Linked DNA regions of Homo sapiens. The protein of the gene in region 1 purifies or fractionates together with the protein of each later gene. This does not show direct contact. Each region holds a gene or a part of one and is shown in the gene's direction. Other genes may lie near its edges.

What was found.
Region 2: the proteins of DGUOK (region 1) and ATP4A purify together in Homo sapiens (affinity purification with mass spectrometry; 3 studies listed by BioGRID and IntAct, with this or other methods). This does not show direct contact.
Region 3: the proteins of DGUOK (region 1) and GNG2 purify together in Homo sapiens (affinity purification with mass spectrometry; 3 studies listed by BioGRID and IntAct, with this or other methods). This does not show direct contact.
Region 4: the proteins of DGUOK (region 1) and DNM1 purify together in Homo sapiens (affinity purification with mass spectrometry; 3 studies listed by BioGRID and IntAct, with this or other methods). This does not show direct contact.
Region 5: the proteins of DGUOK (region 1) and NCALD purify together in Homo sapiens (affinity purification with mass spectrometry; 3 studies listed by BioGRID and IntAct, with this or other methods). This does not show direct contact.
Region 6: the proteins of DGUOK (region 1) and DPYSL5 purify together in Homo sapiens (affinity purification with mass spectrometry; 3 studies listed by BioGRID and IntAct, with this or other methods). This does not show direct contact.
Region 7: the proteins of DGUOK (region 1) and SYN2 purify together in Homo sapiens (affinity purification with mass spectrometry; 3 studies listed by BioGRID and IntAct, with this or other methods). This does not show direct contact.

What each region holds. Positions count from the first base shown.
Region 1 is NC_000002.12:73,929,360-73,933,629, forward strand, and holds part of DGUOK (deoxyguanosine kinase, mitochondrial isoform a precursor), read left to right. Parts: intron 1-3,238; exon of another isoform or gene 3,239-3,324; intron 3,325-4,270.
Region 2 is NC_000019.10:35,553,437-35,557,706, reverse strand, and holds part of ATP4A (potassium-transporting ATPase alpha chain 1), read left to right. Parts: coding exon 1-52; intron 53-618; coding exon 619-794; intron 795-1,894; coding exon 1,895-2,031; intron 2,032-2,116; coding exon 2,117-2,267; intron 2,268-2,372; coding exon 2,373-2,541; intron 2,542-2,630; coding exon 2,631-2,785; intron 2,786-3,877; coding exon 3,878-4,001; intron 4,002-4,270. UniProt on the Homo sapiens protein: The catalytic subunit of the gastric H(+)/K(+) ATPase pump which transports H(+) ions in exchange for K(+) ions across the apical membrane of parietal cells.
Region 3 is NC_000014.9:51,947,328-51,951,597, forward strand, and holds part of GNG2 (guanine nucleotide-binding protein G(I)/G(S)/G(O) subunit gamma-2 precursor), read left to right. Parts: intron 1-3,322; coding exon of another isoform or gene 3,323-3,351; coding exon 3,352-3,438; intron 3,439-4,270. UniProt on the Homo sapiens protein: Guanine nucleotide-binding proteins (G proteins) are involved as a modulator or transducer in various transmembrane signaling systems.
Region 4 is NC_000009.12:128,251,879-128,255,378, forward strand, and holds the end of DNM1 (dynamin-1), read left to right. Parts: intron 1-1,222; coding exon of another isoform or gene 1,223-1,244; exon of another isoform or gene 1,245-1,259; intron 1,260-2,130; coding exon of another isoform or gene 2,131-2,200; exon of another isoform or gene 2,201-2,775; coding exon 2,776-2,836; 3' UTR 2,837-3,366; downstream 3,367-3,500. UniProt on the Homo sapiens protein: Catalyzes the hydrolysis of GTP and utilizes this energy to mediate vesicle scission and participates in many forms of endocytosis, such as clathrin-mediated endocytosis or synaptic vesicle endocytosis as well as rapid endocytosis (RE).
Region 5 is NC_000008.11:101,693,179-101,697,448, reverse strand, and holds part of NCALD (neurocalcin-delta), read left to right. Parts: intron 1-4,270. UniProt on the Homo sapiens protein: May be involved in the calcium-dependent regulation of rhodopsin phosphorylation. Binds three calcium ions.
Region 6 is NC_000002.12:26,941,615-26,945,884, forward strand, and holds part of DPYSL5 (dihydropyrimidinase-related protein 5), read left to right. Parts: intron 1-335; coding exon 336-478; intron 479-928; coding exon 929-1,136; intron 1,137-3,041; coding exon 3,042-3,210; intron 3,211-4,270. UniProt on the Homo sapiens protein: Involved in the negative regulation of dendrite outgrowth.
Region 7 is NC_000003.12:12,010,468-12,014,737, forward strand, and holds part of SYN2 (synapsin-2), read left to right. Parts: intron 1-4,270. UniProt on the Homo sapiens protein: Neuronal phosphoprotein that coats synaptic vesicles, binds to the cytoskeleton, and is believed to function in the regulation of neurotransmitter release. May play a role in noradrenaline secretion by sympathetic neurons.

The sequences.
Region 1 (4,270 bases):
TTGGCTTCCCAAAGTGCTGGGATTACAGAAGTGAGCCTTGGTTTTAAGCATGTTAGGTTTTTACATGCCTATTAATATCCAAGTAGAGGTGTTGAATAGGTAATTGGATATGTAAGTTCAGAATTAGGGTCTCCCCGGACTGGAGCTGTAAATGTAGGTGGTATTTAATGCCAGAGACTATGTGTTGATGGAAAGGACTGAGCCCTGAGCATGCAAATATTATGAAACTGGGGAGATGGGAAGGAATAAGCAGAGACTGAGAAGGAATGCCTACTGAGGTAGGAGAAAAAAACAAAAGAGAATGATATCCTGGAAGCCAAGTGAAGAAGGTATTCAGTGGGAGGGAATGATCAGCTGTGTTATACTGTTTAAGTAAATGAAGGTCTTTGGTGAACTTGAAAAGAACAGTTTTAGGAGTGTTAGGAGTGAAAGCCTAATTGGTATAGGTTCAAGGAGAATGGGAGGTGAGGAGAGTGGGTTAAGATAACTGGAAGTTTTTAGAAAGGGAAGTCATGGGGTGGTAGCTGAAATTAGAAGAGGGTGTGAGTGTTTAACATTTTTAATTTTCTTTTTGTGAAAAGAATTAGAGCATGTTTTTAAGTTGACAGAAGTGGTCTAGTGGAAAGGAGGAAAATTGGTAAATCGGGACAGAGGATAGAATTGCTGGAGTGATTTTTAAGCAAGAAAGAATGGAATCTATTGCCCAGTGGGAAATAATTTAGTCTTAGCTAGGAGCACAATTCATCCCTAGTAACAGGCGTGATGGCAAAATATATGAGCACCAACTTCAGAGGGTGTGGTGGGAACTTGGGAAGGTCTTTTGGTTGTGTCTGTTTTCAGAGTGAAGTAGGAAGAAAGGTCATCAGCTAAGAGTGAATGTAGAGACAGAAGACATGAAATACTCTAGTGAATAAGCAAGAGAAATGTTGAATTACTGGGTACCATTTAGGACCCACTTGGAGTTAGTGGTCATGAATTTAAAGTGAGACCAGTCACCATGGCTGTGTGTTTTTCTCCAGCCAAATCCGAAACATTGAAAGGAATGGGAAGGGAGAGTCCTGCTATTTGCCTGATGATGTTATTATTTAAATATGATGTTTTGTACTGTACTTTGAGAAACACACCCCTAAAGGAAGCTCTGTCCTCAAATCCCAGAGAGAGAACAGGGTATGTCACAAAGTAAGTACTTAGGACAGGTCATCAGATAAGGTTTGAACTCCCTCTATTTTCCTGACTTTTGCTTCTTAACCTTGTCAAATTTCTCTGCTTCTTCCTTGCTTTCTTGTGCAACAGAGGCTTACTGAGTGAGGACTAAGAGTCCACTCTCATGCTGAGCACAGCAGTGAATGGGATACAGCTCCTGTCCTTCAAGGAGCTCACAACTCACAACTAAGTAGGAGAAAACAGATTCGACATAATTTTCTTTTTTTTTTTCTTTTTTTTTTTTTTTTTTTGAGACAGAGTCTTGCTCTGGCACCCAGGCTGCAGTGCAGTGGTGTGATCTTGGCTCACTGCAGCCTCCGCCTCCCAGGTTCACGCCATTCTCCTGCCTCAGGCTCCCAAGTAGCTGGGACTACAGGCGCCCGCCACCATGCCCAGCTAATTTCTTGTATTTTTTAGTAGAGACGGGGTTTCACCATGTTAGCCAGGATGGTCTCAATCTCCTGACCTCGTGATCCGCCAGCTTCGGCCTCCCAAAGTGCTGGGATTATAGGCGTTAGCCACCGTGCCTGGCCGACTCGACATAATTTTCATACTGTGTGGTGAGATTTGTGATTGGGCATGGAAAGCCAGAATCTCTGGGGTAGGAATTCCCAAGAGGAAGAAGAGGGAAAAGTGTTTCAGCCATAGAAAGCAACATGTGCCAAGGTGGTGAAGCCTGAAGAAACACATGCAGTTTTTTGGGGGTTTTTTTGTTTGTTTGTTTGTTTTTTTGATGGAGTCTCATTCTGTCACCCAGGCTGGAGTGCAGTGGTGTGATCTCATCTCACTGCAACCTCCGCTTCCCAGGTTCAAGTGATTCTCCTGTCTCAGCCTCCCAAGTAGCTGAGACTACAGGCATGTGCCACCACGCCTAGCTAACACATGCAGTTTTAATGAAAGAGAAGTAGTTGGATGTGCCTGGAGTTGAAGGGACCTGTGAAAGGGTGGCAGAACAAGAGGTTGGAAGGGTGGGATTTGCCATATGTCGAAGAGCCTTGTGGACCATGCTAGTTTATCCTGTTGGCAGTGGGAGGCTGTTGAACACTTGAAGCCAGTGTGTGCCATGACCAGATTAATTTAAAAAAGGAAATTGTGTAGGATGAGAAAGAAAGCTCCATAAAACAGGCACTTTCTTTGTATATTTTGTTTGCTGCAGTACCCATAGTGCCTTGCATCCAGTTTGTTGGATGAATGAATAGATGAATTGGAACAGAGTTGAGTCTGTGCACTAGTTTTGTGGCTATTGGAGTAATTGGAGGGAGGAAAGATGCAGGCCTGAATAGAAGAACTGAAATGACAGAGAAGTGACGGTTTCAGAGAGATTTTGGAAGCGGGATTGACAGGATGTGGTGGCCACTTGGAGGTGAGGTAGGAGGAGGAGTAGAGGAGGGTGACACTGAGGTTCATGAGGATGGGAATAAAGGAAGAGGCGGTCTGGGGAGGTTAGAGTGATATGTTTTGTATGAGGTGCCTGTGAGACATAGAGGTGTTCTGAGACAGATTGGAATATGTGCCTGAGGTCAAGAGAGTCCGGAGATGGGTGCTGAGATTTCAGATGTGGAAGTTGTTGACTGGTGGGTAGAGGGGTAGTTGGTGAAGCCTTGGAAGTAAATGCAATTGCCCAAGAAAAGGGTGATGCGAAGTGGAATGGGAGGACCTAATCTGACTCTTTTTACTTTCATCTCCCACTACTCTTCATCACCCCACACACCCTGATGACTCTCCCTAGACAGAATTAGTCACTGCCTCCTCTGTGGGCTGACATAACATTTTGTACCCACAACTGCTGCAGCACTTGAGTTCTGCTGAGCTTGTTTGCACATTCACCACCTTCCTTGGGCTCTGACCACTCAGTGTGCTGTTCATCTTTGTATTGCTGACACCTAACCCCCGCCTTGACCCAGTGTACTCAGTACTGACCAGATTCTTGAATCCTGTGCTATGATATCCATGTGGAAGTTAGGCATTGGTACCCACACAGGGAATGTATTAAACTGCTTTTTAAATCAAGAGTGATCATCTTCTCTAATCACAGGTAACATCCTCAAGCAAATCAGAATGAGAGCACCCATTCAGGAAACCTGAACAGGGAAGGTGAACCCCTGTCCTGACCAAAATTGGGTATGTTTAGAGGGCTTTTCTTGTATTCCTTCTGCTCTAAGTCCTATTATTCTGATCCTGAAGGTGCAGACAGCGGCATGTAAGGAAAATTGATCAGTGAAGTAGCAACTAATGGCATCTAGCATGACTTACGAAGCCATATAAGATGTGTGATTGAAAGTCAAAAGCTTGGTACCTAGAACCCCTGAAAATCTAAAAAATAAAACACCTAGCCTGTCTTTTAAGACTGTTCATCCCTACAGTGTATTATCATCTTCTTGTGATTATCTTACGATTACAAGCGTAAATTGAAGAAAAGATTGCTGTATGAAATCTCACTGTCAGTGAGTCATCTCAGCATTTTTACCTTATTTTCAAAGACCCAACCAGAAAAGAGGAAACTCTTTTGCACTTTTCAATCAAGAAACTTAAACATAAAGCAGTAGAGGGCTTCCCTAATAACATGTTTCCTCCAGCATTCAAAATTAGTGACTTCACATCACTAATATGTGTCTTACTTATTTTAAGTATAAATGATTGGGCAAAGAATCCTTGGGAAAAAATAGCCTATTTATTTCAAATACTGTATAGTGGATTCTCTGTGCCTGTGACTCACCTCCTTCCCTCCATCACTGTTCTCATACTCAGGATGCAAAGGTTCAGTCTCTGTCTTCAAAAGTGAGCTCCCAGTCTAGCTGGAGGGAGTGATGAGTGAACAAATAATTACAGCGTAATCCTTTGGTAAACCAGAGCAGGCAGTAATTAACTCTGCCTAGAGATGAAGTGGCGCTGGAGAGAGTTCAAGGAGGCTTCACAGAGAAGGTGGCAGTGGAAAGCTGAATCACCTGGTAGGCAAGGCGGGAGGAGGGGATGTCAGATCAGTGAGGGTCTTTTGTGCTGAGCAGATGAGTTTGGATCATAGGAAGGTGTGAGAAAATTTTTTGCCTTTTTTTTTTCGTAAACAGTT
Region 2 (4,270 bases), on another chromosome or scaffold:
GCCTTCCAGACCGCCTACCTCAGCCTGGGAGGCCTGGGCGAACGCGTGCTCGGTGAGACCCCTGGGCAGGGGAGGAGACTCCAGGTGCGAGGAGGAGCTAGCACAGACCCTGCCCACCACTCCCGGCCCAGCCCTGACCGTCCTCATCCCTGGCTGCTGGCTGATTTGTCGCAGTCCACAGCCTCACCCTTGACTTTCCCTGTACCAGTCCTGACCCCTGTCTGTCCTCACTTTCTACCTTGACCCCAGTCCTCACCTGGACTTTTATCCGTATCCTGACCTCTAACCTCTCCCAATTTTTGTCCTGACGCCTTAAACTTCGCTGCCTCTACCCTAGAAAGCAGATCTGTGGTCCAATTCTGGGCCTTTTACTTGCTGTGTGACCTCTGGCAAGAAATGTCCCCTCTCTGAGCCTCAGTTTCCTCATCTGTAAGATGAGAATGGGCCTCACAGGGTGGTTGTGAGGGTAGATTCAGATAATGTGAGTGAAGGGGTCAGCACAAGGTCAGGCATCCATAGGTGTTTGGTGCAAGGGGCCTGGTTATTTTACCCATTTCCTGGCCCTGCTAAGAAAGGGTGTGCCCAGGGCTCTTCCCTGACTTCCCCGTTTCCGGTCAGGCTTCTGCCAGCTCTACCTGAATGAGAAGGACTACCCGCCTGGCTATGCCTTCGACGTAGAGGCCATGAACTTTCCATCTAGCGGCCTCTGCTTTGCGGGACTTGTATCCATGATTGACCCACCCCGGGCCACCGTCCCTGATGCTGTGCTCAAGTGTCGCACCGCAGGCATCCGGGTATGCCACTGTGGGGAGGAACAAGTGGAGTGAGGACAGAGGATGGCAGCAGGATTTGGGTTGAAGAACCCCATGACAAACCCACCTGAAACTGGCTTGAACCAAAATGCATTGGTTTATGATACTGAAAAATTCTGGGGAATTAAGCTTCAGGTCTAGCCAGATCCAGGAGCTCAGTGTCATTAGGAATTTTCCTTTCTCCATGTCTCAGCTCTGCTGTTCTCTTTGCTGGCTTTATTTGCAGGCACTCCCTTCACTTGGGGACACACACACCCCTGCTCCAGCAGCTCAAACTTAACTCCCACCTGCTTAGCCACCCCACAAAAAGAGAGTGCCTCTTTTGCAGTAGCACTGGATTGGGTCACTCATTTATCCCTGAGCCAGTCACTGGGGCTGGGGGATGGAAGACCTTGATTGGCCAGGTCTGGGCTTACTTACCCAATCTTAGCCAGGGACCTCACTGCAACTGATGGTGTAGGGGAGAGGAGTGGTTCCCCAAACACAAAACAAGGGTGGGAAAGCCAAGGCCAGGCAGGCAATGCCCAAGCCCTTCCCGTGTCTCTACGGCCCTGTTACATCGGGCCTTGTTACCTTTCTAAGCTTGTTCGTTAGCCCTCTTTCCTTGTTCACTCCTCTGCAGTTATGGTGTCCTCCCTGCTGTTCCTCCGACAGTTCGGGCCTGTCCTCACCTCAGGGCCTTTGCACCTGCTGTTCTCCCTGCCAGGAGCACTCTTCTCCCAGCTTTCCACGTGGCTGACTCTCTCACCTCTTACAGGTCTCTGCTCAGATATCACCTTCTCAATAAGCCCTTCCCTGGGTACACTTAAAATCGAGTCACCGTTTCCTTCACCAAGCTTAATATGTTTTTTTCCACTTTCTAACACACTATATAATTCGTTTCTTTATTTTCTGTCACCCTCACTAGAGCTCCTCAAGGACAGGGATTTTTGTCTCTTTTGTCTCTGCTATATCCCAGGCACGTAGGAGGTGGTCACGCTTGGTCAAGTAAATGAACACGTGTATCAGCAGATGTCTCCCAGGGAGGACAGGGAGATTGGGCTGATCTGAAGGGGTCAGTGATCCACTGGTTCCCCCTACAGGTGATCATGGTAACGGGTGACCACCCCATCACCGCCAAGGCCATTGCAGCCAGTGTGGGCATCATCTCGGAAGGCAGCGAGACAGTGGAGGACATCGCTGCCCGCCTCCGTGTGCCCGTAGACCAGGTTAATCGCAAGTAAGCCCCCCCAGACCTCCCCGGGGTTCTCCCCACATCTGGCACAGACCGAGGTCCCAGCGAGGTCCTCCCATCTCCTCCCCAGGGATGCCCGTGCCTGTGTGATCAATGGCATGCAGCTGAAGGACATGGACCCATCGGAACTGGTCGAGGCCCTGCGCACCCACCCCGAGATGGTGTTTGCGCGCACCAGCCCCCAGCAGAAGCTGGTGATCGTGGAGAGCTGCCAGCGGCTGGTGAGCCCTGCTGATGAGGGTGGGCAGGCGGGCAGACAGGCGGGGCTGGTCTTGGACCGGCCTCTCACTGACCACCCACCCACCACCTGCACCCACTGCCTGCAGGGTGCGATTGTGGCCGTCACGGGGGATGGTGTGAATGACTCCCCAGCTCTGAAGAAGGCAGACATCGGAGTAGCCATGGGCATCGCTGGCTCAGATGCTGCCAAAAATGCAGCTGACATGATCCTGCTGGATGACAACTTTGCCTCCATTGTGACAGGCGTGGAGCAGGGTCCGAGCCACGCCAGGGGGAGGGCAGGCAGTGTGGGCACAGGAGGGAGAGGGCTGTGAGGAGGCTGAGGTGCCCACCCTACCCCACAGGTCGACTGATCTTCGACAACCTGAAGAAGTCTATTGCCTACACATTGACCAAGAACATCCCAGAGCTGACACCCTACCTCATCTACATCACCGTCAGCGTGCCCCTGCCCCTCGGGTGCATCACCATCCTCTTCATCGAACTCTGCACTGACATTGTAAGTCCACAGCCCAGGGTACCCATCCACAGGGTGCCCAGAGACACTTGCTTGCAGATGGACAGGAGGGACAGAGACCACCACAGACACTCTTGGGCACAGAGTGACAGACAAGACCTGTGTGTGCAATGACAGCCAGTGCAGGACACATGGGTGGCAGGCAGGTGAACAGACCTAAATGGACATACAGCCATGCACACACAGGCGGACACTCAGGTAGGCCCGGGCCGACCCATGCACACACATGACTCAGATACAGATACTCAGACAGAGATGGAAACAGAACAGGTATCTGGCCAAACTTGAATCACAGACACGTGCCCCTAAACAGACACGGACAAATAAACCCCCTCAGATAGACCCCATGGCAGACAGACAGAAAAGAACCACAGATACAGTCACGAATGCAGCCAGAGGCGCAGCTGTGTTGACAGGTATTTATTCGGTAACATTTACACAGTGCTTTCTCTGGGCCAGACACACCATCATTTCCTTAATTTTGTACTCATAACCACACTATGAGATGAGTTTTGTTACTATCACCCGTACTTTACTGATGAGCTCATCAAGGCATAGACAGGTAGAGTGGATTGTCCCAGGTCACTGGGCAAATAAGTGGCCCGGCTGTGACTTGAGCTTGAGCAGTCACAGGTCCCACAGCCTGTGGTCGTGGTCAGTATGCTCTGCTGCCACTCTAGGCACAAGCAGATGAAGGGGCACGGCGACACTGAGAGACTGAAGATACACAGAGATAGGGAGTGACACAGAAATACACAAGAGCAGATACAGTCACAGAGAATTACACTGGAGACAGGGACAGAGAAACAGAGTGAGGAACAGAGAAAGAGAGGGAGGGAGACAGAGGGAGAAGATAAAAGCAGATGTTCTTACGAAGATGGGCACCAGGATGCCAACACCCAGGGGCCAGTGGGGCCCAGGCTGTCCAGGCTGGTGTGGCTGTGCCGTCCCTGCAGGTCCTGCCTGCTAACCTCAGTCCTGTTCCTGCTCACAAGTGGGGGAAGGGGGACCCGAAGTGGAGGGGACAAGGGCCCAGCCAAACCCTCAGTCCCAGTTCCTTCCACTCCTGGCCAGTTCCCATCTGTGTCCCTGGCATATGAAAAGGCCGAGAGTGACATCATGCACCTGCGTCCACGCAACCCAAAGCGTGACAGATTGGTCAACGAGCCCCTGGCTGCCTACTCCTACTTCCAGATTGGTGGGTGCCCGTGGGCCGGGGAGCCTGGAGGTGGGGGGCTCTGCGCTGGGCTGCTCGCCTGCCCCAGGCCCTGCCTTGGGCTCCGGCTGGTTCTGGACCTCAGTGTCTGCATTTGGTCCTGGGTCTCCGTTGTCCTCCGTGTCCCTCTCTGTTTGTGACAGTCTCTCTGGTTCTGCTGTGTCCCTGCTCTCTCTCTGACCTTGCTCTCCATGACCCTGTCTCTGAGTTGTTGCCTATTTCTGTCTTTTTGGGTCCTGGATGTGTCTTTT
Region 3 (4,270 bases), on another chromosome or scaffold:
AGCTGACTTAAAAATAGATTATCCTGGATTATCTGTGTGGGCGCAATGTAGTTACAAGGGTCCTTAAAAGTGGAAGGGGTGGGCAGAAGTCAGTCAGAGGAAGATGTGACTTCAGAGGAGGTCAGAGTGATGTGACATGAGAAGGGCTCCACTCACCTTTGCCAGCTTTAAAGATGGAGGAAAGGGCCAAGAGCCAAGAAAAGCTGACAGCCTCCAGAAGCTAGAAAATGAAAGAAAGTGAACTCTCAGAGCCTCAAAAAGGAACACAGCCCTGCTTGTACCTTGACTTTAGCCCAGTGAGACCCATTTGAGACTAATGCTCTCCAGAATTATAAGATAATAAATTTCTATTGTTTAAGCCCCTAAACTTGTAGTAATATATTACAGCAGCAATAGAACAAATATATTCTCTATCTCAGCCTCCTCAAGCCACTCACAGCTTTTCCCAGGGAGCATGAAAAGGCATTGAGACACAGACTTTCCTTGATGCTTGAATGACAATAATGGGTCATTTACTCAGTTAATAGCAGGTCTGTTGGCTAATGACAGAGAACCCCTCAATAATGGTGGCATCAATAAGATAGGCACTTATTTCTCTGTCACATCAAAGGTAACCATCTCACAGTTGGCATGGTGGCTCCACAAAATCAGTAAGGACCCAGATCCTTCCTGTTCACCCTAGTGTAGCAGTCATGCTAGAGGTTCAAGAGGGACTTCTGTGATCAATGCAGATGCCTCCCAGGCCAGTAGCAGGAGGAAGGAGAGACAAGGCGTATACCTCTTCCCTTCAAGAACATTTCTGCTTATATCTCATTGGCCAAAACTTAGTCATGTAACTATACCTAGCTGCAAGAGAGGCTTGGAATGTATCTTTCGGCTAAATACACCTAGCTAAAATTCAGGGTTCTTGTGGTCTCCACTAAGAAAAAAAGTGTCGTTACTAATGAAGAAGAAAGGAAGAGGGATTAGAAGGCAAGTTGTGATCTCTGCCACAGGTCACCCTGTAATCTGGTGTAGATTCAGGGCAGAAGAGTCACTGGCCAGAATCTCAAATGTCCCAATAAGAATTTGGTAATTCTGTGATAGTCTGCATTCCAGCCAGATGAATGAATTCCAGTTTGGCAGAAACATTCGCTTCACAGAACAGCATCCAGGGGCTTGTAGATTGTGGCTGCATCCAATATTGGATGAATAGAAGAGTTAGGCTACCCTTCTGAATAAGTCAATGCTCTATCTTGGCCCTATGAAGTCTTCCTAGGCTGTTAGATGTTTGTTTAATTGTGGAGCATGTAATTTCCCTGTGAGGCTGCGATGATTGGGTCTCTAACCATGCTAATGAAATAATACTTGTTAAAGTCTCCTTTTATTATTTTGTTTTTCCATGCAATTCTCCTTCCTTTGATCTCCAAATGTGTAAAAGTAGAGTTCAGAGATCTCTGTGACTTCAAAAATTCCTTCAATCTTCCCTCTCATTTTATTGTCTCCAAACTCTTTGAAAATAAATTGAGGGATGGCCGGGCGTGGTGGCTCATGCCTGTAATCGCAGCACTTTGGGAGGCCGAGGTGGGCGGATCACGAGGTCAGGAGATCAAGACCATCCTGGCTAACATGGTGAAACCCCGTCTCTATTAAAAATACAAAAAATTAGCCAGGTGTGGTGGCGGGCACCTGTAGTCCCAGCTTCTCAGGAGGCTGAGGCAGGAGAATGGCATGAACCTGGGTGGTGGAGCTTGCAGTGAGCCGAGATCGCGCCACTGCACTCCAGCTTGGGCGACAGAGGCAGACTCCGTCTCAAAAAAAAAAAAAAAAGAAAAGAAATTGAGGGAACAATTAATTATGCTCCAATTTATTCTGTAAATGATGTTGGGTGGCTTATTTTGTAGTATTCTTCAACATAATATTCTCCATGAAGGGATTTGTATGTTACAGAGAGTTATACCTAATTTCTTCTTTTGTCTTGAAGAACTGGATATCAAGAAATAACTACCAAAAGAGATAATTTATAGACTTTTGCTTTTTGGTCATTAAGACAATAATTATTTGTTGATTTTAGTTGGTAGGTTAAAAAAAATCTATGTACAGAATTTGTTACGGGTTATTCTTCATTTTCCAGGTTTTCTGTGTGTTCTTTTTCTTTTTAAGATAAGTAACCTGATCTTACTTCATCCTTTGGTAAAAAGATTGTCCAAAGCTAGCAGAAGTCATTATTTTTTATATAATATCTTCAGAACAAGATTCCATTAGTGTTGACGAGGCAGTGTTTAATGTTTCTGTTTCATGGGTCATGCACTCTAGTCAAATCAAAGCACTTAGGTTTTGCTTTATCCAATAGGATATCAGTGATCTCAAGGAGCATATTTACACAGGTAGTCCTAAAATTGCATATGACACCTTGACACAAAGTAAGATTTGTTCAGAATGTGGGGGAAGTGGGCATCAGCAACGGGAATAAAATAAGGTATTTTCCAAGATGAACAATAATAATAAAGTGAGATGGTATGTCAAGAAAGGATAAGAAGAGAAATGAATGTGGGATAGGATTTGAAGGGGGAGGGGAGCACACATGGAGAAAGAGGTATGGCAGAGACAAAGAAACCATCTCGCAATCTGCCTAGGAACAGAACTCTACTCTCAAACCCTGGCCTCAAGGGATCCTCCCACCTTGACCTTTCAGAGTGCTGGGATTACAGATGTGGGCCACCATGCCCAGCCAAGAACTCTACTCTCAAAATGTTTATGTTCCAGATTTATAAAAGAAATCAGTTAATAAGTTTGTTGTACTTCATTTAGAATAACACTGGTGAACTAATTGTCATATTTAGAGATTAGGCATGGCAATCCCTCCCATTTGGCATGATAGATGTGTCCCTGAGGAATTATGAGTAAAGTAGATCGTTGTGACTCAAACTTTAATTTCAAATAGAGTGGGGAGGAATGGCTATTTACAGCAATGCTGGATTAAGTGACACTGAAAAGCCAAGCCTCCCACTATAGTGTCTCTGTAGTATAATACGCTGAGGTGGTCACAGTTAACCAGAAGGATGGGGTTTGAGCCCACTGGGAGAACATTTGGTAATATTCTTTGTGTGTGTGTTTTTTTTCTCTCTAAAGAAGGGATGGGGAAGTAGGGAGAATTGGAAAATCAAACCTCATCCTCTGCTCTGCCTGCCAGTCAGAGGTAATACCGACCAAGGATGGAGAGGGCTGGAGAAGCCAGGCCTGGCTACAGCCACTGCTTTGAGATCCCCTAGTTACGATGAACTTGCACATTTGCTGGCTCATGAATTCTCTGGTACAATCTTCTTTTTGTTTTCTTTTCTAGTGTTTCTGAAAGATCTATCCAGCACTCCGATGGCCAGCAACAACACCGCCAGCATAGCACAAGCCAGGAAGCTGGTAGAGCAGCTTAAGATGGAAGCCAATATCGACAGGATAAAGGTGAGGATGGTCTAACCCCACACTTCATCTAGCGTGAGTCTAAGGCGCATGTCATGTGACCACTCTTTCCTAGAGAGGGATAAAACCAGTAATGACAGGAGAGCATCTTAAAGATTAGGCAGAAGTTCATTTCTAACGTGTCTTTCCCTTCTCCAGCATAAAATAATAGAATGAATTAGATCCTCTTTCCCATGTAGAATTAAAACCTAACAACACAACACAAAAAAAAAAGCAAAACAGGCTCATGGTTAAATTCCAGTGAGAGAAATTAGAGAACACATAAAATATATCAGCGCACTAGTTCCCCTCCCTGTCCTCATGGAAACGTTTTTCTTATTTGGTTTTTAATTTTTTCTGTCCTGGTTCAGGTTCTAAGGCTAAATGTCCGTATTTTGGGTCTAACACTTCTAGTTATCCTTGCACGTTATAAGTTTTTTCTTCTTTATACTTTATTGAATTTTTTTCCTGCAAACACAAAAGTCACACCTTGCCTCCCTAAGAAGTCAAACAACAAAGAGGTTTAATGAAAGTTCATAGTCTATGTGTTTCTTTTTTTCCTCTCCCTCCCCAGACCTAACCTGACAGCTTTGCTGTAAGCTGGGGCTAATTCATCTGGAACCAAGACTTTAAATTCAAACCCTTCGTTGGTAGTTTTCAGATGAAAACCTTGGCCAATATGCTGTCGTTATTAATAGATAGCTATGGCACGGTGGCAAAGTAAATTTCTGTTAACCATCAAAACTTTACTGCCCCAGAAGTAAAATGCCTTACCCAAGAATTCTATGAAATGCAGCTCAGACACATATCTCATTGTACTAAGCTAAAACTACAA
Region 4 (3,500 bases), on another chromosome or scaffold:
AGCATCTGTTTTGTTTCTGCATGGCTGGAGGGTAGGGCTGTCGGTCTAGCACCCATAAACCAAAATGAGGCAGGGATTGGGGCTTGCCCTATGATGCTCTGATGACCAAAGCAGATGCGTAGAGGCAAGCAGCATGGTATTGGGCAAGAGGACTGGACTGGGAGTCCAGAGATGCTGCTTCACCCTGGGCCTTTAGACACGTCTCTTTCCCTCCCAGAGCCTCAGCATCCCTTCTATCAAATGATGACATTCTGCCTTTTTCCCAGGGCGGTTGTGGGGATCGAGGGAGACAGTGGCTATAGGGATGCTGTGTTAACTGCAGATGCAGCCGTAGGAGCACTTTGCTAACTGCCAACGTGAGTTCAGATTCTTCAGGGTATTTGGCACCCAGGTCTATGGTGCGGTGTGAGATCTGTGATGTAAGGTTTGATGCCTGCCCCAACTCCAGTCTTGCTAACACACATGAAACATTTGGCAAATCATGACCCTACCTTGGGGAAAAGAGCAGTCTGGGAGAGCTTCTTCAAGGCAACCTGACTTCAGTGCAGTCTGAGGCATGGCTGAGATAGGCTTACGTGGCAAGGAATCAGGAGGGTATCTGGGCCAAGAGCTGCAGTGTGGGCAGAGGTGTAGTGTGGGCTGCAACGAGGACAGCCACTGGACAAAGCAGAGAACAGAGACAGAATGAGGAAGAGCTCTGTGGGCAGGGTGGGGCGCAAGGTGGAGAACCTTCAAAGTCTGAAAAGTTTGACTTGTTGGGGCTCAATGCTGTGGGCAGTAGGGAACCACAGAAGGCTCTTAGGTGGAGAAATGACAGCTGGACTTTAGCGAGCAAGCCCTATCTCCATGAGCAGCACGGGTGATCCTCTAAGCACACCAGGCACGAGTGTGCAGGGAGCTGGTGCAAATGCCTCTGTGTGCGGGTGAGCTTCTGTGTTGTGACTCTGCCCACACGTGTGCTTCAGTGTGCTGAGTGGCTGCATGCCCCAGATCCATGCTGCACGCGCCGCCGGCCAGTGAGGGTGCTGGGCACTGGGAGGTGGCGGGGAAGGAGGCGTATGCGTGTTGTTTGTGGGCATGTGTGTTAGCGTGTGCATGTGGGCCATGGGGCCTCACAGCATGTGTGTGCACGCCCGGGCGTGTGCGTGTGTGTGTCCCCCACCCCCAGGCCGGCCCCACCCGTGCGTGTGAACTGCCATGTTGATTTCGTGCTGTCTTTCAGAATCACTATCAGTGACCCCTGAGGAGCGTCAGCCATGGTAGGTACATGCCTCACCGCCTGCTGCATGAACGGTGTGTCTGCCCCGCTGCACTAGCTCCACACGGGGCGCGCACCTGGGACCTCAGAGCCAGGCTCCCCGCCCCTCCCTTCTGCAGCTGCAGACTTGCTCTTTCCTCTTTCTGTCCTTGTGCCGCTGGCTCTCTCACCTCCCTTCCCTGCGAGCCTCGGGACTCAGTGCCACTGCCCAAGGCCTCCATGGCTGAGCCTGGAGGCTCTTGGAACAGGCTCCGCGCCCAAGCTGGCAGACATGGGTGCTCTCTGGAGCCGTCAGAGAGGGCAGAGAGCTCGTGGTTTATGGTGTAAAGGCTGGGAGCTTGGAGGGGGTCGTGTGTGGGGCTGGACTCTGAGGCGGCCAGAGGCCTAGGAACGTTATCCTGGGCACACCGTGCGTGGTGTGCAGTCTGAGTCATGCTCCCTGGGTAGGGCATCCAGCTCCCAGCCTGGGAGTGCTGAGAGCCAAATCCACCGTAGAGCAGGGGTGAGAGTCAGGGTCCCACCTCCTCTATCTGCCGGCAATCCAGTGGTGACCTAGGGTAAAAGCTTGAGAGTCCCATACACACGGTCATCCCACGACATACCTCACAGGCCAGGCAGGGACACACAGCCCCCTTCCCTCCCTCCCAGGTACCGTCATAGCTGCTAGTGTGACTGAAGGCAGTGTCCCTGGCCCCAGCTGAAGCACCGTAGCCAGCCAGCGGGCTCACGCACCTTGGCCTGTTGCTCCTAGGGTCACTTGTGCCATTCAGCCAAGGGGACGACCGTGCCTGCTGGCCCAGCTGAGCTCCGCCCAGTGAGCCCACCCCCCATTCTCCTGCCACTGACTCTCGCTCTTCTGCTTTTCCCAGCAGGAAGGGCCCAGCCTCACCTACGAGACCTGCAGCCCCCCGACCAGCTGAGGCTCCCCTCTTAGACTTATAAGTCTATGGCCACTGGCATCCGGCTGCCTGCCCTCCCTGCCTCCCCCAGGGTCCCTTCAGAGGGTCCTGGGTTTTCTGAACACCCAGAGGGGCCTCCGGCGCTCCCTCCAGCCATCCCTTTTAGTTTCACCCTCCTGGTTCAAGCAGTGTTCTTTCTCTATCAGGCCTGGTGGCTGTTGCATGGGGCTCCCCAAGGCAAGGGGTGGCCCCAGGCCAGTGGGTTGGAAGACAGGGTGACCAGAGAAGAGGGAAGCCCGAGGGGGCCGAGCATCAGCCTGAATTGCGGGTGCCCTGCCTGGGTGCCGTGTGAGAGGCCAGCGTGTGTGGGGTGGGGAGGGCCGCCACAGCCCCCAGGCGCTATCTGTGAAGCTACGGCTCCTCCCTCCATCTTCCTCCCCTTTCCCTTCCAGCCCCTTTTCCAGGAACCTTGCCACACCCACACCTGCAGCCTCCCCTCCCCGGCCCTCCCACCACTGCTGCGGCGCGGCCGGCCCCGGCCGTGTGCTGCGCTTGCCTTACCAGCTCTCTCCTCGCTTTTCTCTCCCGTTTTCTCTCTGCTTTCTCTCCAACTGCCAGCCGATCGGGTCAGGCAAGTCCATCCCGTCCTGAGAGCCCCAGGCCCCCCTTCGACCTCTAAACAGATCCCTCCTCTTCTCGGAGACCTCCCTTTCCAAGCCTGCCTGGACGGCTGTTCTGTGACTTGACAGTGGCTCCCCCAGCCCCAAAGCCAGCCCCCTTCATCTGTGACTTAATCTGTTGTAGTGGTGAGCTGATACATTCAGGTGTGACCGTTGGTGAAAACTTGTGCCCCTTCTGTGGTATGCCCTTGCCCTGTTCTATAAATATCTATAAATACTCATATATATACACACCTACACATGGCCAACCGCCTCGCCTCTAGCGCTGGGAATCAGTCACTGTGCTATCCTTGTGGAGTCTTGTGGCCCAACTACCAGAGAACGCTGTCCCCCGACATCCCACTCCAAAGTGTGCCACCTCCAGTGAGCCTCCTTGTCATGCCCGGCCTGTGGACAGCCAGCCCCCGCCATCCCTCCCACCCCCTACCAAGCATGGGGGTGCTGTGCAGGCAGCCGTGTGGCCTGACAGTTTCTACCAGTCCTGCTGTCCCTCGGCTGAGAATAAAACCCATTTCTGGATGATGGGGAATGTCTCCTCTGCTGGTTGTGTTCTCTCTGGAGCTCAGGGGAGGGGAAGGGCTAAGCCATTACTAGGGTGCTGCTGGGGGTGGTGAAAAGACCACATCTTTTCCAAGGGACATTTTTCCTGGAAAGCCCCTGGAG
Region 5 (4,270 bases), on another chromosome or scaffold:
CTCATAAAATGAGTTAGGGAGGAGTCCTTCCTTTTCAATTGTTTGGGATAGTTTCAGAAGGAATCGTACCAGCTCCCCTTTGTATCTCTGGTAGAATTTGGCTGTGAATCCATCTGGTCCTGGGCTTTTTTAGGTTGGTAGGCTATTAATTACTGCCTCAATTTCAGAACTTGTTATTGGTCTATTCAGGGATTTAACTTCTTTCTGGTTTAGTCTTGGGAGGGTGTATGTGTCCAGGAATTTATACATTTCTTCTAGATTTTCCCGTTTATTTGCATAGAGATGTTTATAGTATTCTCTGATGATAGTTTATATTTCTGTGGTGTCGGTGGTGATATACCCTTTATCATTTTTTATTGTGTCTATTTGATTATTCTCTCTTTTCTTCTTTATTAGTCTAGCTAGTGGTCTATTTTGTTAATTTTTTCAAAAAAACAGCTCCTGGATTCATTGATTTTTGAAGGGTTTTTTGTGTCTCTGTTTCCTTCTGTTCTGCTCTAATCTTAGTTATTTCTTCTCTTCTGCTAGCTTTTGGATTTGTTTGCTCTTGCTTCCCTAGCTCTTTTAATTGTGATGTTAGAGTGGCGATTTGAGATCCTTCTAGCTTTCTGATGTGGGCATTTAGTGCTATAAATTTCCCTCTTAACACAGCTTTAGCTGTCTCCCAGAGATTCTGGTATGTTGCAAATGACTACTTTTCAATTCTCTGAACACCACTGACTGCAAGTAAGGAAGGGAAGAGAGGTAAATTTGGGAAATGAATGTGAATAGGAAAATCAAATTTAATGTCACTTCCATCTTTTGTTGCTCGTTGGAGAAATACAGATCCCTAAACACTGTGAGGCCTCAGTGGTCTTTCCCTGCTTGCTCTAGAGCCACATTGTGTACTGAACGCCCCCACACTCTGTTGACCTCCTTGCCACGCTCCCACTCTGGGCTTCCACATGGTGTTTTGCTCACCCCTGATTTATTTAAGCCCTATGCTTTCTTCACGTCTTTGTGCAATCATCATTCCTCAGAGAAGCCTACCCTAACCCTCCTGGCAAAACCTAACTCTCCCACTATATCATCACAGAAGCCATGCACTCTTCTTTCTAGCACTTTTCTCAACAATGGTTTTACATGTATTTCTTTATTTTACTAATGTCTGCCTTATTTCACAGCAAAAACCATGAGGGAAAGGATTAGGTCAATGTCAATACCTGGTACACATTAGTTGCTTATACATATTTGATGAATGACTGAGTGAGTGGATGGATGAAGAGGCAGTCACCTAAGAGCAGGGATTTCCATGACCTGGGGTCTATGGATCAGCTTCTAAATACCCAAACCTCTGAGATCGTCTGCAATGGTGGGTGGGTTTGCATGGTTTCTAAGGGAAAAGCTCAAATCTTTTGACAGATTAAGTCTTTAAGGGGTTTCACATGAATATGTTTAATTATGTGAAGAGAGAGAGAAGAAAAAGAAAAGAGGAAACTAAAAAAAACATATAAAAGGATAAAGGGGAACTTTATAAATTGGAGCAGTGCAGAATAAAGGTGAGAGAGGGAAAGAATGAGAGGGCAACTGGGGGACAGTTATTCCTGAATAAATTCTTTAAACTAAGTGAAGTTGACTGTATTCAAGACCCTATGTTAGGTACTATCAGGGATTCAAAAAATAGATGTGACTGCTACCCTCACATCTAAAAGGAGAACATTCTGGGTGTGAATTCAAGGTAAATGGAAGGAAGTGATATGAGAGAGGTTGGGTTGGAGCCCCTTGCTAGCACAGAGGGAGGGAGATTGCACATAGCAATAGAAGAAGGGAAGATGATGGAAGGCTTCCTGGAGGAGGGTAACATTTTGATCTGCTCTTAACACATGGGTAAGAGTCCAAGGAGGAGGGGAGATGGGGTAGGTGAGCACTCAGGTGAGAGAAGAATATAAACAAAGCTGCTGGTCCAGGACACCAAGGAGCGTATCATGTTGTCAGACTCTTGACAACAGCCTTTGTGGAGCATCTGAGCTGGGAGACACCTCCTATGGCCAGTCACAGGCACAAAGCCAGTGGCATCTAGAAGGACCACGTGAGACAAACTTACTGAGGCCAGAACAGACTTGGAGAAGGAACAATCCAGCCCCAAAGAAGATTGATAATGAATAAATACACAGCCCCCTTAAAACTTCTGGCAAAAATAAACTTATCCCTTGTCTGTAAGTGCTCTTCCCCGCAACACCTCTGCAACTCCTGAAACAGCTCCATGCGCTCTCCTTTAAGGAGGTTGTGCTAATGTGATCTGCAGGGATGCCAATTTCTAAATGTTGTGTTATTGTTGTCCTAAGATTCCTGGGCTTATGAATTCACCAAATATTTAGATCATATGAGCTTGAAATGTATGTGAGGGGTGTGCATGTTTTCATAGTTGGTGCCGATTCCATTTTGACTATGTCAAGAGTTACGAAAAGCTTCCACTGTGGGAGCAAAGCAAGCTGGGGAGAGGTTGCTAGACCTCAAGACTTTTGCTGGTGTGAAAAGACACCTGCTGTCTACTGTTACTAAATATTCACCTGGGCGTGTTAAATCTCAGGGCCTCTCTTCTCCCATTTGCAAAAACAGCTCCATCTCTCCGGCCTTTCCTAGCTCCCCCAAGAACTTACGTGTCCCCGGCAGTGAGGCACATGGCACTACAGCCCCAGCACAGTTGGTGGAGCAGACCTGGGCTGGGATGACAGCAGGCAGGGGACCATGATGAGGAGGGCAGACGATGGCTCCCCTCTTGTCTCCAGAGCACACTTCAGTGAGCATTTCTTGGGAATGAAATGGCTCAGCTTACCCCAGGGACACCCATAATCCTAGACAGCACCCTAACTCTGCGCTTTACCTCCCAGACCAAGTCGCTGCAGAGTCAGCTATGGAGTTCAGTAAGCACATTGGGTGGGTTTGAGACAGACTCAGGGAGCCTGTCCAGAAGCATCCCTGAGGGATGGGATCAGCCTAAGGGCCAGCACACTGGGTGAGTCTGTTTTCATTCTTATTTTGACTGAGATTAGAGTACTTACCCTACCTTATCCAGAACATGTTAGGAACTTCTGGCAGGGTTGGTCCTGAGCAAGACTGTAAAGCAGCTCAGGTGAAGCTTCAGTGTCTTTTTCTGCTCTCACCTTTCCCATTTGGAGGCGACTCCCCTCAGCTGCTTTCCTTTCTCTGTCCTCTGCACCTGCCTTGCTGCCCCTAGAGCTCCAGAACTCTCTGAAATTTTCTGCCTACTCCCTGGCAAAATCTATTTTTTCTAAAAATTGTCCCCAGGGCCAAGATGCCCAAAGTGACTCTGATTAGCAAAGTCATGATCTGGGGATAAAAACAATGACTTTTCATTCCTCTTCCCAAATAAAAACTACCTTTGACCACAGAGGTCAAAGGGCCCTTACTGAGTCCCATGTGGAGGTCACAGGCATGGGGTGATAGTTTCAGTAGTGCTTACAAAACTCCACAGAATCCTCTTTCGCCCATCAGATCTCATAGCTGTACCCAGTTTAGCTCAGGCCTGAGGATGCATAATAATTCAGAGCTCTGATGGCAGGTGGTTTCCATCTCAGGACTGCCTGGAAGCTTGCTGAGAAGGAACTTGAGACCATTGTCACACACAGGGAGAAAAGCACTGGAATGGACTAGAAGTCTGCCTGGGGAAACATGTGGCATGCACTTACAGAGTGTTACATGTCTGTCATCCTTGAGGAGTCATTGTGGACTCTCAAGGGTCCATGATAGGCATCCACTTGCCTCTCTAGCCTGAAGAATGTCATCTGCAGCCTTGCTCCTCAAAGTGGGAACCTTGCTTTTCAAAGCAGCGTCTTCAGAACAGCAGCATCAGCATCACACCGGAGCTTATTAAAAATACAGACTCTCAGCCCCACCCCTTTCCCCCACACTACCCAATCAGATTCTGCATTTTAACAAGATTCCCAGGGGATTTGTATGCACATAAACAATGGAGACGGCTAGGAGAGGTGGCGCATGTCTGTAATCCCAGCACTTTGGGAGGCTGAGGGAGGAGAAGCTTGAGCCCAGGAGTTCGAGACCAGCTTGGGCAACATAATGAGACCTTGTCTGTACAGAAAAAAAAAAAAAAAAAAAAAAAAAAAAAAAAACGCCCTGTGTGGTGGGGAGTACCTCTAGTCCCAGCTGCTGCTCAGGAGACTGAGGTGGGAGGATTGCTTGAGCCTATGAAATGGAGCCTGCAGTGAGCCGTAAGCGTGCCACTACACTCCAGCCTGGGTGACAGAATGAG
Region 6 (4,270 bases), about 47 Mb from region 1:
TAGTAGATGAAGGGAGGTTCCTGACTCATCCGTGTGGGCACATGAGCAGAGCTGGTTTTACAAACAGGAGGCAGATTTGCCCCCGGGCAGGAAGCCTGAATGGAACCACGGCCACTCACCATAGTTGCTGGGTGAAGGGAGAAAGGAATAAGTGAGCAACTGGGACCCAGCCAAGCAGGCTGGCTCATCTGAGATGGTGCTCATGGCCTTGTCCCTTTGTGACCACTGTCCTGACCACCTAAGCCCTAAGTCCATGGGCCAGCATCAAAGGTGACCAAGGGTTTGAGACCCACCCCCAGAGCCTGGTTGACTTGACACTTTCTGCAACATTTCAGGTTGGAGGAAAGATGGATGAGAACCGTTTTGTGGCCGTTACCAGTTCCAACGCAGCTAAGCTTCTGAACCTGTATCCCCGCAAGGGCCGCATTATTCCCGGAGCCGATGCTGATGTGGTGGTGTGGGACCCAGAAGCCACAAAGTAAAGTTTGTTGCTCGTCCCCAGGGCTAGAGGGGCTTGGGATTTTGAAGAAGACTTGCATTACAGATCTCCAAAAGCATATAATTTTGCACTATTTCTAGCACAAAATATGGCCCTGGCCTACCGTTGGCCATCTTCTCCCTCCATCTTCACACAGTCTTTCTTCCGTGTCACACATGTCTGGTGTGTCTGTCTCCTCTTCTTATAAGGACACCGATAAGACTGGATTAGGGCCCACCTATATGACCTCACTTTATCTTAATGATTACATTAAAGGCCCTAAATAGTGCCATGTTCTGAGGTTCTGGGTGTTAGAACTTCAGCAGAAGAATTTTGAAGGGAGCCAATTCAACCCATAACAACCAGCCTTTGGGGCTCACCCCTCCCATGGAGCTGTGACATTTTGACCTGTCCTCAGCGCTTTCTCTCCCGCCATTGCCTCCCCACCAGGACCATCTCAGCCAGCACGCAGGTCCAGGGAGGAGACTTCAACCTGTATGAGAACATGCGCTGCCACGGCGTGCCACTGGTCACCATCAGCCGGGGGCGCGTCGTGTATGAGAACGGCGTCTTCATGTGCGCCGAGGGCACCGGCAAGTTCTGTCCCCTGAGGTCCTTCCCAGACACTGTCTACAAGAAGCTGGTCCAGAGAGAGAAGGTGAGGTGGGAGGAGGAAGATGCAGGGGTGTTGGCGCCCCCTGCCGGGGAACATCCTCCATGACTGTTTTAAATCTCAAAGAGATGTTCACTCCAGTTTTCGACCCAATTCCATTGCACTTTCTCCAGCGTTGAGAGGGGAGTGTGCGGCAGCGCCAGGGAACGCTAGAGTCAGAAAATGCTGATTTCTGTTCCCCGTCTTTGATTACCAAGTGGCATTTTAAGTGGTCAGGCAGCAGGGCTCCTGAGTTGCTGAGGGCACAAGTGGGAAATGTGAGTGTGTGCGACCGCTGAGCTCCTCTGGATACGCAGGCTTGGGGTGGAGGAGGTGCTGGGGGCTGGAGATGCTGCTTTGGCTCGGCTCCCTCCCACTCTTGATGAAGCAAGCGGGGGGTAGAGCTGGCATTTGCAAAGCATTGTCTGAAGCACAGGAGGAGCAGGCACCTGAACACGGGAGGCCCACACTGCTGGCACACAGAGCACACGAGAGGGCTCAGAGCTTTCAGAGAAACCAAGGACCCTTCTCTCCCAGAGGCCAATGAGTGAAGAAATCCACTGCCAGGTCTGCCGTGGGAGCGCAGGCTTGGGCTGCCTGAATGAAGAAAGCGTGACTTTCGTGATCGCAGGGCTAAATCCAAAAGCAAACTCAGGGTCTCTTACTCATCACACTCAGCTAATGTTTACTTTTTTGTGGAGATGGACGGGGTTTAACCGTGTTGCTCGGGTTGCTTTCAAATTCCTGGGCTCAAGTGATCCGTCTGCCTCGGCCTCCTAAAGTGCTGGGATTACAGGCGTGAGCCACTGTGCGCGGCCCAATAACACTTTTTAATACGATGTAGGACCATAAATGACCTCTGCAGTAATAACTGCTCGTACTTCTGTGTTGCCTCTCATGTGCCAGAGCAGTTGGAACAGCTTTACACATATTAATTCGTCTGCTCTCCTGCAACTCTCTGATGTAGGTATAGTATTATGGGCACAGAAAAGTAACTTGCACAAAGCCACACAGTTTACAAGTGACAGAGTTGGGATTGGAACCTAGGCAGTCTGGTTGTAGAATATAGACTCCTAACTCTACTGCCTTTGTGAGTACAGAATTAGCTAGTATTGCTACTGGGGGCCTCTCATCTCCAGATGGGGCTGTGTTTAGCCTCTGTTCCCTCAGAGTTGTCAGACCAGTAAAGGGTGTGGCTTCGTGGGAGCCTAAGGTGGGGAATAACGTTGCGCTGTGTGGGAGGGCGCTCTCTAAAATTGACTTCCGGTTGGGCATGGTGGCTCACGCCTGTAATCCCGGAACTTTGGGAGGCCGAGGCGGGTGGATCACGAGGTCAGGAGTTCAAGACCAGCTGGCCAAGATGGTGAAACCCCGTCTCTATTAAAAATACAAAAATTAGTCAGGCACGGTGGCAGGCGCCTGTAATCCTAGCTACTTGGGAGGCTGAGGCAGGAGAATCACTTTGCGGGGGCGGAGGTTGCAGTGAGCCAAGATCGCACCACTGCACTCCAGCATGGGCGACAGAGTGAGACTCTGTCTCAAAAAAAAGAAAAGAAAAATTTGGTTAAAGTTGACTTCCTCAGATGTCTACCTGCTACCTCGGTGAGGCTTCCATCAGTGTTGAGGGGGAGCCAGTATCTCTCCCATACACATGCATGCACACACACATGTGCACTCACATACATGCACGCATGCACACATGTACACATATGCACATGCTCTTTAGGAGGTATGAGAAAACTCCAGCCCCTGGACTCAATGTTTAAGAAGCCTTGGTCACTTGCAGTGATTTGGGTCTTGGGCAGAGTGGCAGTGTCTAATGTCCCACCGGCCCCCAGGGAGGCCATGGTTGTATCACTCAGCTCTGATGGTGTTGTCCTGTTCTTCTGCTCTTCTTCCATCCTTCCCTAGACTTTAAAGGTTAGAGGAGTGGACCGCACTCCCTACCTGGGGGATGTCGCTGTTGTCGTGCACCCTGGGAAAAAAGAGATGGGAACCCCACTCGCAGACACTCCTACCCGGCCCGTCACCCGGCATGGGGGCATGAGGGACCTTCACGAATCCAGCTTCAGCCTCTCTGGTAAGAGTCAGGGGGCCACGGGAGGAGGATGGGGGTCTGGGAGAAGTGGCCCACCTAGGCAGTGGGACTTACGCCTGCTTTTCTTTTGTGTCCTCTCCTCCCTCCCGTTGCCTATTTCCAGGGATGAGTGCTGGTTTGGATATTAGACTCACATAGACATTAGTGGGGACAGGAGGGCTGTCCTGGTCCCTGGGCACAGACGCTCTAATAGGCCATGGCCCACCTGGGGCTCTGCTCGGGGTTTCTAAGTTCAGATATTTTTGTCCCTTGAAACATCTTGAGGGCTGTGCACACAGTGGGTGCTCCAGAGATGCCCTGAGCTCAGAAGAGTCAGCCCTGTCTGTGGTTCACGGGACTGCACCGACCAGCCCTTCGCCCACCCCAGCCCACTCCTCACCAGCCTCTCTACTCCTTCTGCTACCCCCTCTCCTCCTCTGACCTTCCCACACCTTTCCCCGCCTTTGCCTCACCTTCACCTTCTTTTTTTTTTTTTTACCAGGAATTGTATTGTATATATTTTATTAACTTTAAGTAAAATATTTTCTCTCGACTTCTGATGCCCAGTTTTTTCTCTTATCTTTCTGTCCTTTGGGTCCTGGCCCCAGTCCTTCTGTGGAATCTCTGGGTTCCTTGGGGGGTGCGATCCCAGTTCTTAAAGCCACGATCTGCAGTTTCCCGCCCCCCCGTCCCCCCCCGCACCCATCACCATGCGAGCCACGGGCTCATAAATGATGATCCTCAGTGGAGAACAAGCAGAGGCTGTAAGATGCCTCGGGCCTCCAGGTGGCTTAGGTGGGAACTGTCACCACCACTTGCAGGGGGCTAGGACCCTGAGTCTCCCTGAGCACAGTTGAGCTGCCTTCAGGATAAGCCCAGAGAGAGACCAAGCACCCACTCAGTAAGGGCTGTGCTGGGATGGGTACGGCGAGAGGCGCAAGACCCTGGTCCTTCCACCCACAGCCTGGAGTTTACTGGGGGAGACAAGCCCCATACACAAACCATCCTGCTGTGAGAACAGAGGGCTAAACCAGAGGGATGCCAATGGGTCAGCGCCTGCCTG
Region 7 (4,270 bases), on another chromosome or scaffold:
GTATGGTAATTAGTATGCATAGGATGCTATGGGAACACAGAGATAAGTTATCCTGGGGAATGAAGATCTTGTACTTAGAAATGTTCCATTAAAATGTGCCACCATGTATTCTTAGATAAACCACTTCGCATCTTTGGACTTTGATTTTCTAAAATTTGTCAAATGAGAGGATTGAAATATATTCTCCAAGATCCTTTCCAGTACTGTATTATTTCCGTGGTTCAGTTTTTGTGCCATTTTCTTTTAAAAGCATTAGCTCTAATTTTTTTCTATATGGTAATGCCTGTAAATCTTTGGAAGCAGAGACATACGTCAATAAATGACTAAACATTTCCCGGAATGAAAAGCTCACCTTTGAATGGTCTTAATTCAGTACCTCCTTGTTACATTATTGCTACCATATGTTATCGTGAAAAAAGAGGCTAATCCTGTGATGCCTGCTGTGTATATTTCCTCATCAATGATGGGAATTGGGACTTGTGGCTAAATCTATGTGGGAATCTAAAACAAAAGATGACAATGCCACCTGATAAGCTTGCAGAAGTTCTTACAAGATTTACAGGTGTACACATAGTGGGAGTGCCACTAAACACACAGAAAAACCAAGATACAACTCTGTCTTGAGGCTACTGCATTTAACCATGACTTCACTCTAGGTGGTGGATATGATCCTGAAAAAGCTGTGTATATTGAGTTTTTGTAAATTGAATAATTTCAAAAACAGTGGGGCACTCACTATTTAAATGAATTGTGGAAAATCTTTTGCAAGAGAAATTGCCTTTTTTATAAGAAAAAAATTGTTACCTAATTTTTTTTAGCTTCCCACATAGAAGCAATTGGGTATCATAAAGCTACAATATCTCTTTAGAGAAAGGAGAGGATGATCTAGAAGGCTTTTCTGTTCTGCAGACACTGCTTCAATACAGCAGGAAGACGTAGTTTTTAGTAGGGCAGTGACCTGTGGAGAGAATAAAGTGAGCAGATACCACAGGTGCCTGAACTCTAAGGATGTCCATGCTGCATGACTAAGAATAGGAGGATGTATATGGGCCTTGGTGTTTGTTGCTTGACAGCAGGCATTTCAGAAATTTTAACCAGTTCATGTAAGATTGTAAAATAGATTAGATTCAGTCACCCTGCCCTTCTTTCCTTTTCAGCAGCATGAAACAATGTGAGATACAGGATTGAGGGTCAAAAGACTTCGAATTGAGATCTGGCTCCACTGTTAGCCTTATGGCCTTATCAGGTTTACATAATCTCCTTGAGCCTTTCTCCCATCTATTTGACAGATTTCCGCTGGAGGTCTACTATATATCAGGCACTGTTCAAGGTTCTAGAATAACAGACAAAAATTAGTTTCATTACCTGTAAAGTGGAGATAACATTATGTATTTCTGATACCACTGTTGTGATAATTAAATAAAATAAGGTACCATAAAAGCATTTTGTAAAAGCTAAAGAGCCATACTAGTAGTTAGTGTTACATCTTTCCCTGTTTCCAGCCGCAGGTATCTGATCTACCTTGGTTCCTTTTTTGAGTTCCCAAAATTTTGTTATGTAAGTGATTGTTTATTTTGCACACTTCTGGGATGAGGAATCTTCTTTTTGTTGTTGTTATTTAGTTGAGGGCCACCGACTCAAGACAATATCATCAAAGGCTTTCTTTTGTGTTTTTCAAAAGGCAATATAACTTAGTTTTTTTTTTTAATGACAAAAACATTACCCATTAACTCAGCTATATTTAATAATTAGGGGCAGAACCACATAAATCTTAATTTTATTTAATAAGTGAATTCTAAAATAGCTCTCCTTCAGTTTTACTTGTAACTAATTAAGGAAGGATGGCTACAGAGGAAAATGAAGGAAGAGAGAAATACACAGAAGGCCTTTAAAAGGTAGTGCTTGTATTTGTTTCCCTATCCAATCAAAGCCTAGAACATTGCTTTCAGAATATTTTTAAGCAAAACAAAAGCATTCACGGATCTTAGAAAGTTAGCTTCTTTCTTAACATTCTTCCCTAACACGTAGTTGCTCATTGTGCTTATTCACAGTTTGCCTCCAGCTTTTCAGACTCATTTCTCACTGTCCCCTCAATCCTGAATTTTGCTGTACTCTGGATTACCCTCTCCCTGCACACATGCTGGACTTTTAAGACCTGGTGCTATTATTGCACAGCTGCCTTTGTTTGGAATGCTCTTGTCCTGGTTCTCTTACCTTAACGTTGATTTTCTTTATTTCATTCTCCGAGGATAAAGGCATTGCCTATTGTTGAAAAAGACTCATCTCTTGTCTTCTGCATGACCTTGCTTAAGATTTCATCTCTCTTTTTCCTTCTGTTCATATTCTCATTTTCTACTGATTGCTCTTTCTATGGGTTGCTCCATTCTTGTAAATAAAGTAACAAATGAAAAACTCATCCTCACCTTCCTAATCACTCTTCCAAACATGAAAGATAAATCTCACTCGTTACTTATCCAGTTATTTGCCCTTTTCCACTGACACTGGCCTTCTGCCTTCTCTGTAATATTGATACTGTTCTTGCTAGGGAACCTAATTGCTAAATCCAGAGGAAGGTGTCAAATGTTCACTGATGTGTTTGACACTGTATATCTTCCCTTTGGAAGTCGCTTGGCTTCAGGACACTGCATTCTTTGTTCCTTTTTAAAATTTTTAAATAGTTTTGTAAAGACAAGATCTTGCTATGTTGCCTAGGCTAGTCCCGAAGTCTTGGCCCCAAGTGATCCTCCTGCCTCAGCCTCCCAAAGTGTCAAGATTACAGGCATGAGCCACCACCCCCAGCCTCTTTGTTCTCTTCATACTTGTTTTATCGAAGTTTCTTTTCACTCTTCTTGTTCTTTCCCTTTGTCTACCTCATTAAATGTAGATGTTCCTCCGGGCCCCCTTTTCCTGCCCACTTCTTTTTTTATACTGCATATTCTCCCTGGTCCATCTACTCTCAAGGTGTCAGTTACCTCTTAAGTACAATCAGTTCCCTAATCATTACCTTTAGTCCAAAACTTTGTCCTCATCTTTAGACATATGTGCAGCTGCCTGCTGGACATCTCCATCTGGGTGGTTAAGAGTCGTTTGATCCAATATTGAAATCCATGTTTTTCCTTCCTATTCCAGCTCTTCTATTCTGTATTTTAAGTGGGACACCGATGGTCACCTATTTCAAGTTCTCATTAACTTTCACCTAGAACTTCTGCAAGTCTCATCATGATTTCCATTTAGTAACCTGAATGAACTATTTAAAATGCAAATTTGACCTTTTTACTCCTTTGCTTAAAGTTTTTCAGGAGCTTCTTACATCCTATAGGTAGTTTATGGCCCTCCTGTGATTTGACCCCTGCTTTCTTCTCCTGCCGTCTCTAATTATTTCCATGTCCAGACTTCCTTTTCCAGCAATACTGAACTGTTTGCACTTCCATACACACATTGTTGCATTCCTCCTCCTTGTCTTTACTGTCTGCTACTACAGTTTCCCTTCCTCCCCTTTCCTTTTCTTGATTAAATTCATATTCATCTTTTGAGACTGAGTATTTCCTTTTCCAGAAACTCTTCTCTAACTCTCTAGATTGTATTGAGCGTCTATGCCCCCTCCATGCCCTCTTTCAATACTGCAAGTATCTTTATCTCTGGACACAACACAATGGTCTGTTTATGTGTCTGCTTCCCCACTAGATAGTGGGTTCTCTGAGGACAGACAGGCTGAATGTTTCATTCCTTTTTGCATCCTTAGCATCCAGCATAGGGCTTGACACATAGATTGAGGACAGTAAATCTTTGCCATATTGAATTGAGCAGCAAGAGAGTCAAAGGATGAGATAAGGGATAGAAGGTAACAATGAAGAGAGGGAAGTATCCTAGGATTAGAAGTATATGTTAATATGTTGGAAGTCATCCTTACTGTCTTCAAATATAAGCTTTAGAATGCTTTCACTCTTATGTCCTATGAAATATAAATTAATTACTAATTTTCAACCATACCACATCATAAATCTTTAGAGATTTAGCTCTGAATGAGAGAGCCATAGCAGCCCACAATACTGGAAAGTATTATCTAGTCCATGGCAGCTCTGAGCAGAGCAAAGGCAAATGGAATAAAATTGAGGACCAAGTTTCTCTTACCATATATTGACACTTGGCTCTCAAGGAACCATTTTTCTGAAAATTCGGTCTTCTTTTTTCCTCAGTGTGAAACTCCAACCTCAGGCCACCCAAGCTGTGTGTTTCTTTCTCTTTAGTGAAAAAGTTCCTTTGGGCTATT